Linked DNA regions of Homo sapiens: region 1 is linked to region 2. Evidence: fine-mapped expression QTL. A gene starts in region 2. The other region holds a variant in brackets. All regions are shown on one strand. Distances are from middle to middle.

Region 1 (5,381 bases), 23 kb after region 2:
AGGAGACCCTATCTCTACAGAAAATAAAAAAGAATTAGCAGGACTTGGTGACATGCACCTGTAGTCCCAGCTACTTGGGAAGCTAAAGTAAAAGGATCCTTTGAGCCCACTAGATCAAGGTTGCAGTGAGCTATGATCACACCATCGCACTACTACAGCAGGGGCAAAATTGAAAAGAAAGGAAAAGAGAAGAAGAAGAATGAGATATGCCCAGGGAGTTAACAAAATAGGTCACCGTGGACATTTACCTTTGAAAGCAATATTTGCTTAGGATAAGCCAAGATGCTTATAAGGATATAAGCTGCCTGTTGACAATTCAAGGTTGATAGGATTCTGTAATGACTCACAATATTTGCCAACCCTCCCAAACCTTTGCTTCACCAAATGTTTGCTTAAGATGAAGAGTTTGGCATTAGGCACATGTTGAAATTCACCTGGGAGAATTTCCCTTCAGAGCGCCATGAGGTGACATGGCAGCTGCCCCCATGGTACACTCTGAAGGAACCTAAAGGACCATTGACCTGAGCATGTTCTCCTCTTGTGACTTTCACCACCCTCCCCGCCAAGGGTGTGCCCCCCAAAACAACAGTGGTCTGTAGATGTGAACATTAACATGCGAATGTGCACTTCATTTTATCTTATATGTCTGCACCCTAACAACTTTCAAAGCTAGTTTGAGGCTGTATGCAATAAAAGCATAGTACAATTGCCCAAAATCAATTAAGAAAATGCAGATCAAACCAAGTATAAAAAGCTTTGAACTTGAAATGTTTTCTCAATTTACTACCTTTGTCCTTTCTCTTCTTAGAATCTTAACTCCCTAGGACAGAGAATCTATCTTCTTTCCAGCTATGTCCCTGGCCTATGAAAGAGGTGCCTAGCACATAGTAGGCACTCAATAAATAAATGCTGACTGAATAAAACAATGAGAAAAGTAAGCAAAATAAATTTTTTTTTTAGCTAAAAACATCTGAATTTCTATGACTGGAAATTTAACCCTGAGCTTGCTAGTATCCGTGTGAAAGAGTCATCAAAGTTTACAGAATTCTTTGTCTAACAGAATTGCCAGAAAATAGAATAAATGCTTTTCTAGTTCCAAATTTTTTCATGAGAAACTTTCTTTGAGGGTAATGAGAAAGACTGACATCCACGTCTTTATAGATACTTTTTTTTAACACAATGTCTGACCTATGACTGATTTTGCTTTAGCGAAATGAGCAGGTAAAGTGTATTTTATATGTAGACACAAACAGTTATGTGTTATATGTATACACTAACATTTAGCACTGATTACTCTATCAAGTTTTTACCAGAAAACAGAGCCCGGGACACAAGCAACAGTTGATAAAACAGAAGAAAAACCTAGTTTAAGAGCAGAATAATGTTTAGCTGCACTCAGTGGCTCACATCTGTAATCCCAGAACTTTGGGAGGCCAAGGCAGGAGGAGCCCTTGAGTCCAGGAGTTTGAGACTGGCATAGGCGAAAAAGGGAGACCTCGTTTCTACAAAAATATATTTTAAAATTTAGCCAGGCCTGACGATGCACACGCGTAGTTCTAGCTACTCAGGAGGATGAGGCAGGAGGATCCCTTGAGCCCAGGAATTCAAGGCTACAGTGAGCTATGATCATGCCATTGCAGTCCAGGCCGGGAGACAGAATGAGACCCTCACTCAAAAGAGCAGAATAACACTTAGCTGAAGAGAGCATGTCCCAGAGAAATGTCGCAGCAGGTTCTGGGAGGCTGAAAGCAAATCAGTCATCAGAACATTTCCTGCCTCGTGCCTTTGTTCACATGTGTGTCAAATCCTATCCAGGGCTCAAACCACATTTCAAACACCCGGTATTTCTTAGCTTTTCTCCATCAGCTGCTGTAACCCAGTGTGCTAAGCATTTGCCATACAAAGACGCCAGTCACAGCTCCTGCTTCCATTGGGCTCACAGTTGAATGAGGAAAGCATTCTCTAAACAAATACTTGTAATTTAATATGATGACTGCTGTGAGAAACGCAATGCAAAGTAACATGCTTGGAAGAAGAAGCAAATTATATTGATTGGGGAACTGTTAGAAAGCACCAAAAAGTGGTAAAATTTAAGAAAGTTTTCAAGGATGAACCGGAGTTTGAAAAACAGAAAGAGGGCTGGATGCAGTGGCTCATGCCTGTAATCCCAGCACTTTGGGAGGCCAAGGCGGGTGGATGACAAGGTCAAGAGATCGAGACCATCCTGCTAACAAGGGGAAACCCTGTCTCTACTAAAAATACAAAAATTAGCCGGGCATGGTGGTGGGCGCCTGTAGTCCCAGCTACTCAGGAGGCTGAGGCAAGAGAATGGTGTGAACCTGGGAGGCGGAGGTTGCAGTGAGCCAAGATGGAGCCACTGCACTCCAGCCTGGGCAACAGAGCGAGACTCCATCTCAAAAAAAAAAAAAAAGAAAAAGAAAAAGAGAAAGGAAGCACATTTTAAGCAAAAGGAGCAGCAAGTGCAAAGGTGTGAAAACCAGAAAGAATCTGAATTGTTTGAGGAATGGTGAGTGGGCCAGGGAGGCCTGAGTGCATGTGTGTTGGTGATGACAGAGGGTGAGGCTGGAGCATTTCCATCAGCTCAGGCTGTCCACGGGTATGTTTAACCTGCACATCGTGCTTTGGAACTTTTCTCATCAGCCGGGGAGCATCATAGGAAAAAAATAAAAACCAAAAGAGTGACGTGACACAATTTGTACCTATGATCTCTCTTACCATTTTTATCCCTTACTGCAATTTGTTGAAACTATTTTAATAGAAATTATCACGCTCCTCCTTGTAACTGAGTTATTTTTTACTCTTGTCTAATCCCTCCTACTGGATTGTAAGATCATTTAAGGAGAATAACTACGCCTGCCTCATCTTTGTCCTCCTTGAAGCTTCTCTTGCACAACTAAGCAGTTGTTCCGTTGATTTCATGTTCAACTTACTATTCCAGGAAAGGGAAGTAGAAGAAAGGAAGCATGACTGTAAGATGGGCGAGGCCAAGGAAGAGTCATT[T/C]CCTCCATGGTGAAGAACATAATGCTACGCAACTTCAAGCAAATTAAAAAACAGTTGTGGTTGGCCAGGCATGGTGGCTCACACCTGTAATCCCAGCATTTTGGGAGGCTAAGGTGGGCAGATCACAAGGTCAGGAGTTCAAGACCAGCCTGGCCAATATGGTGAAACCCTGTCTCTACTAAAAATACAAAAATCAGCTGGGAGTGGTGGCAGGCACCTGTAGCCCCAGCTACTCGGGAGACTGAGGAAGGAGAATCTCTTGAACCCGGCAGGTGGATCTTGCAGTGAACTGAGATCATGCCACTGCACTCCAGCCTGGGCGACAAAGCAAGACTCCAACTCAAAAAAAAAAAAAAAATGGCTGTGGCTAATGAGCGTTTTAGGGAAAATGACAATTAAGCTAAACTGCTAAAGCTGGAGATGATGGATAAGACAAGGATGAGAAAAAGAAGAAGACAGAAGAATTTCTAGGAAATTCAGATTCCTTCTGAGAAAAGTGAGGAGGCAGGGGACAGGACAATTTAAAGATGCCAAAGAATCCTTTATTCTTCAAAATTTCAAAATCTTTCAATGCTACTTACTAAAGTAGAACCACTTTAATGGCGTTGGTGTTTACCTCATTTCCTCTTCACTCATTAACAGCAGTATTAGTGGGTCTTTTTAGTCTATTTCATCTTCTGTGTCTATCACACCGGCATAGAATTACCAAGAGCACTGTTTGACAGAAAACATGAAATCTCAGGCAAATGATGGAGATGTTTGTGATTGTGTTTCATTCCTTTTGATTTTGACCTTTTCATTTTGGAGTGCTGACTGACATGGAAATCTCTGAAGCACAATTTTCCAGTGAACTTGGCCCGCTTGGAAACCGCCCTTGTTCATCCTCATTGAATGAGCATTTTCCCTAGACCACGTGCATGTTCCCGCGGCAATAACTGGCTTGCAAATTAAGCCTGAACCAGATATGCCATAGAACTATTATTTTCTTTTTCAATGTGCAAGCAGTTTTAAAGCTACACCTAATCCTGACTACTGGATCCTGTCAGATGGCGCCTCTTTAAAACCAAAATATGAGTTAATAAGCAGGTGAGATAATCTGCCTCCAGCAAACACTCCCTACATTAAGAATTGAAAATGTTTTCATCATTCAGAAGTTTGCTTTAAGCTTTGTTATATAATGCTCCTTGTGAAGTTTTAAAATGTATCATATTATGTTCATTTGGAACTAAAAAGCAATTGAATTAATAGCAGAACTCTGATTTCTGATCCACAGTTTTGTTAGTTTGATACATTGCTTAGGATTCTCAATTATGAAAACTACAATGGTAAGATGGTAAAGTGCATAGAACATGAGCTCTGGAGTTATTCCCTGGGCTTAAACCTTGGTTCTCCCACTCAGATTTTCTGCCTCCATTTCCTCCTTTCTAAACCAGAGGCTGCTGTGAGGGTTTTAAATGAAATAATCTACATGATGACTCTGGGCACAATGCCCACCGCAGGGTAAGCAGTCCATTATTAGCCATTATCATTATCAATCATCGTGATCATTAATTGCCTTTATATGTGTTATATGAAGTCATTAGGTAGCTAATGTTCTATAGAAGGGGTTGGCAATTTTTTCCTGTAAAAGTGCAGGTAAATATTTTAGACTTCATGTGCCATATAGTCTCTGTTGCAACTACTCAACTCTGACATTGGTTCAAAAAAACAAAGACAATCTCTACATTCAAACTCCTACCCATGAATTCCAACCCAGCATATATGTCAAAGGCCACCTATTCCTTGACCATATTTTCAATGGCCTTGCCCACTTCCCTCCCATTTTACCTGCATGTCAAACTGGGATCATCTATCTCTGTACCTTCACCTGGATGGCTGAGCTCTGGTGGAGAGAATTGCACAATCACACAGATTAATGACACTATAAATACATCACATCTAACTTCAACCAGGCCCTCACCTCTACCCATAAATCCTTCTTACAAAACTTCCTTCCCCCTTTTTCTACAACAGCTATTTCAAATCATCTTCTGTCCTCATAAACCTCCAATGCACAGAAGTCTCAGTTTGGGAACTCTCCTTTCTTTCTATTACAAATTTTGCAGAGAATCTCATGTTTCTCTCTCTCTCCCTTTCTCTCTTACCGCCCCCCATGCCCCAACACACATACACCCTTTGTTACTTCTCTCCTTTAACAATGAAAGAACTGCCCCCTTCCTACTGGAAGCTGAACACCTCATACTCCGTTTGTCCTATAATAACTCATTTCTTCTTACATCTTTTGAGAGCTGACCTATAAATCATCCCCGCTTTTTTACATTTATTTTCAGCTTCTCCCTTCTTACTGCCTAATTTGGTTT
Region 2 (5,381 bases):
AGAAGGAACTGGGTGGTATGAAAGCAGAGCTGGAAAGAAGAGAATTGGCTGGACACAGCGCCTCATACCTATAATCCCAGCCCTTTGGGAAGCTGATGTGGGAGGACTGCTCAAGGCCAAGAGTTGGAGACCAACCTGGGCAACAAAATGAGACCACATCCCTATTTTAAAAAGGAAGGGAAGCGAAGGGGAGGGGAGGGGAGGGGAAAAGAGGAGAAGAAGGAAGGGAGCCAAGAAATTTGGGTCGCACAGGTGACAGCTTCTGTACTGCAAATAAAAAGTGATAGGACAAAAAAAAAAGAAAAAAAACACCTTGCTCAACAAAGACTCATAAAGAATTCTCAGTTAAACAGAAGGACTTAGCCTTGCTGCAAGTATTAGGTGGAGGTGTTACCCTCCCAGGCCAGACTATCATTTCAAATGAACTTAAGACAGATTATGCTAATTTGAGAGGGAATTAGGATGAAAATAGAAACTCTCTGGGTGTAATTAACGGCATAGGGAACTAACTAGAGCATAAGAAGCTGGATACATTTCTTAGAGAATTGTATTTCCAAATAAACTATGAGCTGCCTTAAAAATGGTTACATCAGTAAAACAAGCAGCAGGTTATAAAAAAGGGTGATATCAGTAAATCAACCAGCAGGTCTCCATACTTACAAAGCAGAAAATGAGCCTGCAGCAGGGAAAACCACAGAGATTTCCACCCACATCAACATAGCCGTGGATGATAATTAACATGGGTATTTTATTAAAAGCCATAAAGCTAATCCTGAGAAGAATTTTTAAAAATATATAATTCATATTAGAAGTATTTCTTTCACAGGGAGTCGTCGGAGTCTGTCTAAAGTAGATAAAACAAAAGACTGATTTGTAAGCATATAATTTATAAGCAACCAAGAAAGAAATGTATATCTTTGGAGTGGTAACGCCTCAGGAGAACTAAAACTGTGAGACTAAGTATGAAGGGGAAAGTAGTAGAGAAGGGCATTTAATTTTTGTTTTATGTCTTTCTCTTCTGCTTCAAATAAAACTGATCAATTATGACCCAGCATACCATGGGGTATCATACAGCAATTACTAAGTAAGACTGACAGGTACCAATAAATCATGAACCAAGAAAAGCATACCAGTATGACAGCCAAAATATCTTTTAAAGTGTATGGATCTAGAGATAGACAGATGATGGATCGATGGATGGACGGATGGTTGGATGGCTGGATGATGGATGGATGGATGGATGGATGGATGGATGGATGGATGGATAGAGAGATAGGAGCTATAGACAAAAACTTGTCTCTTTGTAGAGTATCAGGAAGGATTCACACTAAACTATCCCCAATATCTTTGGGATAGAAGGCGAAGAGCCTTGGAAGCATAACTCACCCTCATTTATTTTAGTACCCTCAACTCTCAGCACCTGAGTTCCACCAAACTTCAAACTGCAAATCTTAGATTGAATGGTATGTTACTGTTTTCAGGAGAACACTCGAAATCATGAAGGTCTGTATGTCGTTGATGTTATGGTTTGGACTTCTTATTGTGTCTTTAAAGGACTTGCTTCTGTTTGGTTCTGACCGCTTTTTCTAGCAGTCATTAGGAGCTTTCATAATCCTTAAGGCCCCATCACGGATGATGTCAGCTTCTTTGATTATGGAAAACCTTGAGAAGTTTATTATAAATTTATCAATGTAACTTTGTAAACAAAAGAGAAGCGGGAAAAAAGAACAAAGTACCTTTCCAGAGAAATAGTAAAACCTTATTTCCGCTATTAAGAGCTTAAATCCGGCCGGGCGCGGTGGCTCACGCCTGTAATCCCAGCACTTTGGGCGGCCTAGGCGGGCGGGTCACGAGGTCAGGAGATCGAGACCATCCTGGCCTAACATGGTGAAACCCCGTCTCTACTAAAAATAAAAAATAAAAAATAAAAAAAAATTAGCCGGGCGTGGTGGCGGGTGCCTGTAGTCCCAGCTACTCGGGAGGTTGAGGCAGGAGAATAGCGTGAACCCGGAAGGTGGAGGTTGCAGTGAGCAGAGATAACGCCACTGCACTCCAGCCTGGGCGACAGAGCGAGACTGACTCAAAAAAAAAAAAAAAAAAAAAGCTTAAATACAAGACGGAAAAAAGGGAAGCGGCTTGCTGCCTGTCAATGTCCAGGTTCGAATGGCTGTGCTCAGATGTGGTGACCCTTACTTTCTCCTCAGCACCCCAGATCCCCAGGCCCCCTCGGGTGCAGAGGACCCGTTAAATGCCTGAGCACTCTCCTCTCTCACGGTGGTTGTCCCTCTTCCCTACCTCTCCGCGAAGCTGCCGCCCGAGCCCAGTGGGCGCCCCAGCTTCCCTCGCCCGGCGCGCACGAAGCCACCAGGCCACCTCCCCGCCCGGTCCATCTGGATGTTGAAGGAATCCTAGAACCCCCGCGGGACAGCTCCGCTCCAGGGTCCCTAGCGACACCCGACGTCACCCGCAATCCTCACCCCGGCCGCCGAACCTGCTAGGTCCAAAGAGCTTCGGAGCTGCACGCCCCGCGGGGAGGAGGTGGAGCAGAGGAGACCGAGCGCAGAGCCTGGCGTCGGACTGGGCGCTCTGAGCCACACAGCAGCCAGCGCCTGAGTTTTTATCTAGGGAGTTAGTTTCGGTTTCTTTTCTCCACCGCGAGGCCTTTTCGATTTCCGCAGTTTTCTGGAGGTAGAATATAGGTCTGCATTGGTTTACTCTGAGAATCTTAGGGAAGTAATAGTAGAAGCGATGATATGCTATCTGGGACATGCATGTAATTGTAAAGGGAAAGAAAGCAGAGAAATCTGGGACTCTAAACAAGGAATTGAGGCTGAGAGTAAATGCAGCACGCTAAGCACTATGAAAGTCTGCGGTGAGGTGTGGCGTTTTTCTTTTCTGGCAAGGTACTGGACAGGCAAAAATGGAGTAAAAAAGGATTAGGGGCTTTGAGTTTCTGTCCTAAGAAGTTCATTTTATGAAAAATTTCCAATAGTATAACTGTCCAGTGTGAACATTTGAAAGACCAATCATCTATCACAGAGAATTTAAATTGAGAAGAAGAATGCTCTTTAGTTTTGTCATCAAGCTCATTAATGTTTGAAATTCGAGTTTCAACCCCAGCCCATCATGGTCTTTAGTGCTCCAGACGCTTAATTCCATGACGTTATGCATGTGCAGAATATATTGAGATTCAAGGTGGTGGTGAGGGTGCCCCAGTAACGGCATGGGGTAATAAATGGAGAGAAATCGAAACCGGAAGTTCTGTCTTCAAGAAAAGGAAAGGGTGGAAGTGACTTGTTCACAATAGAAAGAGCCCAGAAGAACAAAGTTTTTTCTCAGACTCTGGAATATAAAGTGGCTTCGAAAAGGAGGTGAAAACATTGCTCACTTCTGTCAGGATTTTTCTTTAATTTTATGTTTGGTTGAAAATAGTTATGATTCTCTTTCTCAATGAGGATGACATTGAGAAAGAACCTGAAATGACTCATGATTAAGTCATGAGTTCATCTCAGATGAATTCCTCTCTAGCATCTGATACTGGACCTTTGTATCATAAGAATGCATTTGCTAGCAGCAGAAAATTGGGCTTTGCTGTAAAAGCATTCATTGAGCTTTTTATGTGCCAGGCAATAGGCTAAGCCCTTAACATGTATTATCACATTAAATCTCACAGAAATCCCATGAGCAACTTTACTGTTGCTATTTTATGGATGAGGTAAATAAGGCTTAGAGAATTCAATTACTTGTCGATGACCCTACAGGTAGTTAATGGTAGCCAAGACTTCAAAATTTAATTCCAAAGATAATATCTACAATATTCTCTGTATATATTATCTCATTCCAGTTCTTTTAAATACTACAGTGTCATTATTCCTCCCCCAAAGCACATACAATTTAATGGGGATTTCCTCTTTTGGTTGTAGAAGTGGGCCCTACATGTTCTTAATATAATTGACTGTCTGCTGTTGTTTTTCTCTCTTAAAGATATAGATGTATCAGGTGGGGATTCCCTAGATGTTAACTCCACACATCCCACTTCCCACCGCAAAGTATATGTACAATGCACATAAGCAGACTCTACTCCAAATCAATATCCAGTTCTCTTCCACTTTAATAATATGTTACCATAACTCCAGCCTGGACATTATCCAGAAACTTGAAAATCATAAACTCCATTTCCACTTTTTAGAGACTTCCCCCTTGCCTCAATCTCTCAGTCTCCTTAGGAGCCCCACTCTTTCACCTCCCCAGGATCAACTCTGTGAACAGGCACTGAACCTTCCTCTCACTAACATTCTCAACTGCTTCATCCACTCTCTTTCCTCTGCACCTTCACTGCAACTTGATCACCTCAATCTAGTAAACCATTTTTTGCCCTTACCAGGACATTGAAGGAAATTGTCTAATATTTTTCACCTCAGATTTACTGTTTATGACTATAGGTTCCTGATCTTTTTTACAGTGGCCCTTAAAACCCTACAGCATCTTGCTGTTCTCTTCAAGTCCACTAAGAATATATCTGTTTTAAAGAGACTCCTTTTAACTGTCTGACACCTCCATCTAGTCCAAGAAGCCCATGACATGCTCCACATACAATATAACCACTCCCTTTTGAGTTGGTTACCTCCAGCTTCCTCAGGAATCTCACTCCATTCCTATATTGTTAACCTCTCTCTATTTACAGCTGTGGTAGACTGAATAATGGTCTCCCAAAGACATCTATGTCCTAATCCTTGTACCTATAAATATGTCATCTTCTGTTGCAAAAAGAACTTTGCAGATATTCCTAAGAATCTTGAGATGGGGAAATTACCCTGGATTATCTGGGGACCTGATATAATCAGAAGGGTCCTTATAAGAGGGAAGGACTATTATCAAAAAGGAACCAGGACAAGGATAATGTGGGAAATTATCAGGATTTCAAGACTGCAAAGGATGGTAAAAGTAAGAGACTCACTGCTGGGAAAACGTACTCTGGAGAAAAAGTCATGAGTACAGCTGGACAACCTTTTGCTAGTGCTTCAAAAAGATCTCTGTGACATACACAGGAAATCCAAAAGATTTCTGAGAATATCAGCAGAAACACTGCCAGCTTGAACTGAAAGGTACAGAGAGAGAATAAAATGAAAGACGGTTATAGGACTCCCAAAATTCCATAAGCAATAAACAGTCTGATAAAACTATTCAGCCCCAAACTTGTGCTATCTTTCATGAAGGATGACTCTGAGGGCAGAGCCTAGAGACACAAATGGTTATTCACAGGCCTTAAAACCTATGGAGTTAGCCTTGCAGATTTTTGAAATTTCTTGGCTTTTTCTCCTTCCATTTTCTCCCTTTGTGAACAGGAATATCTGTAACTGGTACCCTATTCCTGTTCCACC

The links. PIP is the estimated chance that this variant, and not a neighbour inherited with it, causes the effect.
Region 1: its variant is fine-mapped to the expression of DDX60L in whole blood (TOPMed, PIP above 0.99).

What each region holds. Positions count from the first base shown.
Region 1 is chr4:168,501,231-168,506,611 of GRCh38, forward strand. The region is part of intron 1 of PALLD (palladin, cytoskeletal associated protein); the gene reads left to right. All of the region lies in intron 1 of LOC107986198 (a long non-coding RNA gene), which reads right to left. Among named protein-coding and RNA genes, the nearest start is that of PALLD, 6.9 kb to the left of the region's middle. The variant T/C (reference allele first, on the strand shown) is at 3,022.
Region 2 is chr4:168,477,900-168,483,280 of GRCh38, forward strand. It overlaps DDX60L (DExD/H-box 60 like), which reads right to left and starts at 2,593. Exons shown (of 38, transcript NM_001012967.3): 1 at 2,478-2,593. RefSeq lists an enhancer at 2,612-2,851.